Linked DNA regions of Homo sapiens: region 2 is linked to region 1. Evidence: fine-mapped expression QTL. A gene starts in region 1. The other region holds a variant in brackets. All regions are shown on one strand. Distances are from middle to middle. Region 1 holds the start of COG8 (component of oligomeric golgi complex 8). Region 2 overlaps SNTB2 (syntrophin beta 2).

Region 1 (2,573 bases):
GGAGAGACTTTTTGATATCTGATGCCCTCAAATGCGAGGATTTCCTTGTCACCTTCCCGTCAATGGAAGTTTTGAAGCAGATGACCTCCGGTCCACGCTTTCGTATAAAATAAGTATATAAATGTGCACATATATTCAGCTCACACCTATAATGTTAACTGTGTCAGACCCGATAATAAGAGCTTTGCATGAATCCTTTTTCTTTGTGCCCACAACTGCCCTTCGAGGGAGGGACGTGCTTCTGGGTAACCAGTTCTGAATTCGAAACCTCCTAGCTGTGTCCTTGGACGTCACTAATCTCTGTCTTGACTTGCTCATATGTAAAATGGAAATAACAGGGCTGGGCGCAGTGGATTATGCCTGTAATCCCAGCGCTTTGGGAGGCCGAGGCGGACAGATCACGACATCAAAAGATCGAGACCATCCCAGCCAACATGCTGAAACCCCGTCTCTACTAAAAATCCAAAAAAATTAGCTGGGCGTGGTGGCGCGCGCCTATGGTCCCTGCTACTCAGGAGGCTGAGGCAGGAGAATCGCTTGAACCCAGGAGGCAGAGGTAGGTTGCAGCGAGCCGAGATCTCGCCACTGCACTCCAGCCTGGCGACAGGGCGAGACTCCGTCTCAAAAAAGATAAAAAAGGAATAACAGTACCTATCTCGAAGGCTGTTGTGAGGTTTAAATGGATTAATAAAGCGCTCAGCAGAGAACCTGGAACGTGGTAAACGCTTTATGTGTTAGTTATTTCTACCATCGTAAATGTCAGCTTTTACAGTTATAAAACCCCTTTAGCGCCAGGCGCGTCGCACCTGCAGCTCTGCTGGAAGCTGGGCAAACGGTCGAGCAGGCGGCCGAGCGACGCCTCCACGTCGCCAAACAGGCGGTGGATGCGCTCGGTGCACTCGGCGCCGCGGATGAAGGTCTTGTAGTTAGCGAAGGCCAAGTCGCGCGTCTGCTGCAGCAGCTGCGCCCGCTCCTCCGCCAGGCGCTCGGGCTCGCGCCGCAGCCGCTCCAGCCCCGAGCCGCTCAACTCCCGGAGGTAGCGGCCCACATCGGGCCGCTCGCGCCACTGGGCCTCGGGGAAGCGGTCCCGGAACAGCGACGCCAGGAGCCCTTCATCCTCCACCTCGCCGAGAGCCGCTGCTGTGGCCGTGGCTACCGATGGGATAGTCGCCGCGGTCGCCATCTTCCCAGCAACAACGTCACTTCCCTTCCGGACCACAAGGGGCGCTGACTCCGAACTTAGGACAGGAAGAAACAGGCACATTTCCGGTCTCTATGCTTTCTCATCCGGCCGGCTTGCTTTCCCCTGCGGTCGTCCAGACTATTGGGCGCTAGCGAGACGAACTATTGGTACGGGGCTAGAGAGGAAGGCTTTGGGATTGCCGGGGAGCAGCGAGCGACCGACTTCCGTTTCCAGTTACCAAGGCACGAGGATCCGGTGTTCCAACCCAGGGGGAAAAATGCGGCCTTTGACTGAAGAGGAGACCCGTGTCATGTTTGAGAAGATAGCGAAATAGTAGGAGCGCGCGGGGCGGACGCGGGAGTGTGTGGGTGTGGTGGCCAAGGGTGGAGTGGGGGCGCGGTGCCGGAGACCGGTTCGTTCGGGCGCGGTCTCCAGTCCTCTTTTTGCCCTCAGCATTGGGGAGAATCTTCAACTGCTGGTGGACCGGCCCGATGGCACCTACTGTTTCCGTCTGCACAACGACCGGGTGTACTATGTGAGGTGAGGCGGGGCCGGGCAGGCAGCATGGACCCAGGGGAGAGGGGTCCTGGGTCCCACGAGCCTCCTTCATCCGCAACCTTGCTCCCCCTTTACCCTTTTAGTGAGAAGATTATGAAGCTGGCCGCCAATATTTCCGGGGACAAGCTGGTGTCGCTGGGGACCTGCTTTGGAAAATTCACTAAAACCCACAAGTTTCGGTTGCACGTCACAGCTCTGGATTACCTTGCACCTTATGCCAAGGTTTGTGGGGCGGTTTCCAATTCTGCCACGGGCGATGAAGTCAAGGATTAGGCAGATTGTCCGGCAGCTTCTCTCCCACAGAGTCCCTGACAGTGTGCTTGGAGGAGTTTCAGCACATGGAGATGTGTAGAGGTCTTGCAGCTTGAGCATGGTCAGGGCTATGGGATAGGAATGCTATGTGGCTGCGTAGGGTTAGTTTTCTCCAGCGAAGTAGAAGAGCCTAGGGAGACCCAGCTAGAGATCAGAAAGCAAATAAGTGGCAGCAATGAAGACACCGGGGTCCAGAAAAAGAGCTGTTAACCTGGCCATGGAGGATGATCCTTGTAGAGTTGAGAAAATAACTTTTTCTATTTTTTTCTTTTTCTTTCTTGCTCTGTTTTTTCTTTTCATTTCTCTTTCTCTTTCTTCCTGACACAGTTTCACTCTGTCGCCCAGGCTAGAGTGCAGTGGTGCGATCTCACTGCAGCCTCCACTTTCCAGTTTCCAGTGATTCTTGTGCCTCAGTAGCTGGGATTACAGGCATGTGCCACCACACCTGGCTGATTTTTTTGTGTGTTTTTAGTAGAGACAGTGTTTCACTGTGTTGGCCAGGCTGGTCTCGAACTCCTGG
Region 2 (3,020 bases), 40 kb before region 1:
AGGTGGATGGATCCCTTGCAGTCAGGAGTTCAAGACCAACCTGGCCAACGTGGTGAAACCCTGTCTCTACTAAAAATGCAAAAAAATTAGCCGGGCGTGGTGGTGTACATCTGTAATCCCAGCTACTCAGCAGGCTGAGGCAGAAGAATTGCTTGAGCCCAGGAGGGTGAGGTTGCAATGAACCGAGATCACGCCACTGCACCCCAGCCTGGGTGACAGAAGGAGATTCCATCTCAAAACAAACAAAAAAAAGAATCTCTAAATCTCTCTTTTTAAAATTGTTTAGACATTGCTCTGTCACCCAGGCTAGAGTGCAGTGGCATGATCATAGCTCACTGCAGCCTTGAACTCCTGGACGCAAGTGATCCTCCCACCCCAGCCTCCTGAGTAGCTGGGACTATAGGCACACACCACCATGCCCAGATACATTTTTTATTTTTATAGAAATGAGATCTTGCCATGTTACCCAGGCTGTTCTCTAGCGCCTGGCCTCAAGTGATCCTCCTGCCTCCTGCCTTAGCCTCCCAGAGTGCTGGGATTGTAAGCATGACCCACCACACCTGGGGCATTTGCCAGTCTTGATGACCAAAATTGTTTGTATCCTGTCAATTCAGAGGTGTCCTTTGAATTGTATCTTTGATAGCGTTGACTGTGACTTTTGCTGAGTATAGCCTTTAACTTTGATGAACATAATCTTTATCTTCATCCCAAATGCCAACCAAACCATGTCACGGCTCCTGAAAGGCCTCTCTGCCTTTGCTCCTTTGGTTGGTCCTTCTTGCCCAGTTCAGTCCTTCTGCCTCTTCCTCCCTGCCTGTCCAGTTTTACCAATTCTTTTTTTTTTTTTTTTTTTTTTTTTTGAGACAGTGTCTCGCTCTTGTCACCCAGGCTGGAGTGCAGTGGCGTGATTTCATCTCACTGCAACCTCTGCCTCCCAGGTGCAAGCAGTTATCCTGCCTCAGCCTCCCAAGTAGCTGGGATTACAGGCATGTGCCACCATGGCTGGCTAATTTTTGTATTTTTAGTAGAGACGGGGTTTCGCCATGTTGGCCAGGCTAGTCTCTAACTCCTGACCTCAAGTGATCCGCCCACCTCGACCTCCCAAAGTGCTGGGATTACAGGTGTGAGCCACCGTACCCGGCCAGTATTACCAATTCTTTAGGGCCTATCTGAAGGCCCATCTCCTCCAGGAAACCTTTTCTTGACTTTGGCCTCATTCACTTTGGTGTTTGCTCATGTTCTGTACATTCTGCCTTACACAATTGGGGATTTCCTGTCTATGCCAATG[A/C]GTTTACAAAGTCCTTGAGAGCAGGGACTGTGCCTCTTACTTCTCTAGTGCCTTGCACAGCCTACACACACTTGCCAGTATGAGTGTTCAGTGGGTACTCGAGGAATTAAATCGAACAGATGTCAAGGAGTGTTATGGTCATTTCTGCCTCATCTCAGTGACCAAAACAAAACACACTTCTTTTTTTTTTTTTTTTGAGACAGTCTTGCTCTGTCGCCCAGGGTGGAGTGCAGTGGTGCAATCTTGGCTCACTGCAACGTCCGCCTCCCGGGTGCAAGCAATTCTCCTGCCTCAGCCTCCTGAGTAGCTGGGATTACAGGCACCCGCCACCACACCCAGCTAATTTTTATATTTTTAGTAGAGACGGGGTTTCACCATGTTGGTCAGGCTGGTCTCAAACCCCTGACTTTGCGATCCGCCTGCCTCGGCCTCCCAAAGTGCTGGGATTACAGGCGTGAGCCACCACGCCTAGCACAAAACACACTTTAGAAGTTTCCATACAGGTTAGGTATCACACATTCTCAAGAAAATATTTTTCCTATTTTGAAGTCAGAAGATTCCCTTTTCACTTGATAACTGACATAGCAACTTTACAACTAATGTTTTTTGCTTTTCTTCAACAGGCTGCATGTTAAATGGCCAAGAGGTGAGGCTTACTATTCACTATGAAAATGGGTTCACCATCTCAAGGGAAAATGGAGGCTCCAGCAGCATATTGTACCGCTACCCCTTTGAAAGGCTGAAGATGTCTGCTGATGATGGCATCCGAAATCTATACTTGGATTTTGGTGGTCCCGAGGGAGAACTGGTAAGAGTGTTTCTGAAACACATGTTTATCTAATAGATGTTCTCTTTCCTTCTCATTACTTCTTACCCCTTATATACAAAGTCATGGACTGACATTCCATTTAGAACCATGAAATTTTAAATTAAAAAAAATTTTTTTAAAGATGGGGTCTCTGTCACCCAGGCTGGAGTGTAGTGGTGCAATCATAGCTTCCTGCAGCCTATACCTTCTGGGCTCAAGTGATCCTCCCACCTCAGCCTCCTGAGTAACTGGGACTGGACTATAGGTGTGTGCCACCATGCCTGGCCAATTTTTTATATTCTTTATAGAGATGAGGTCTCGCTTTGCTGCCCAGGATGGTCTTGAACTCCTGGCTTCAAGTGATCTTCCCATCTTGGCCTCCCAAGGTGTTGAGATTACAGGTGTGAGCCACTGTATCTGCTCTTCTTCAGTTTTCAAGATGGCATTGGGTGTTGGTTTTTGTTGCCGTCATTTTTCTTTTTTTTTTCTTTTTTGAGACGGAGTCTCGCTTTGTCGCCCAGGCTGGAGTGCAGTGGCACCATCTCAGCTCACTGCAACCTCTGCCTCCCTGGTTCAAGCAATTCTGCTGCCTCAGCCTCCCGAGTAGCTGAGATTACATGCACGTGCCACCATGCCTGGCTAATTTTTCGTATTTTTAGTAGAGATGGGGTTTCACCGTGTTAGCCAGGATGGTCCCAATCTCCTGACCTCATGATCTGCCCGCCTCAGCCTCCCAAAGTGCTGGGATTATGGGCGTGAGCCACCGTGCCTGGCCTTAGATTTTAAATCCTCTACTATTTAGTTCTTCCTACCAGGCATGGTGAAACCCAGTACACCACCAGTTGTCTCCTAATTGGGGATGTGAAACCTCACACCAGTATTATGACATGGAATAACCTTACTCCATAGTGCACTTTTGCCTGT

What was found. PIP is the estimated chance that this variant, and not a neighbour inherited with it, causes the effect.
Region 2: its variant is the best candidate, but not a certain one, in a credible set for the expression of COG8 in whole blood (TOPMed, PIP 0.52).

The regions. Positions count from the first base shown.
Region 1 is chr16:69,338,370-69,340,942 of GRCh38, forward strand. COG8 (component of oligomeric golgi complex 8) reads right to left here and starts at 1,195. Exons shown (of 6, transcript NM_032382.5): 1 at 807-1,195. The coding sequence starts at 1,183. It overlaps NIP7 (nucleolar pre-rRNA processing protein NIP7), which reads left to right and starts at 1,403. Exons shown (of 5, transcript NM_016101.5): 1 at 1,403-1,516; 2 at 1,637-1,723; 3 at 1,825-1,963. The coding sequence starts at 1,461. RefSeq lists silencers at 872-921, 932-981 and enhancers at 1,402-1,521, 1,702-1,781.
Region 2 is chr16:69,297,679-69,300,698 of GRCh38, forward strand. SNTB2 (syntrophin beta 2) reads left to right here. Exons shown (of 7, transcript NM_006750.4): 6 at 1,912-2,096. Among named protein-coding and RNA genes, the nearest start is that of VPS4A, 12 kb to the right of the region's middle. The variant A/C (reference allele first, on the strand shown) is at 1,289.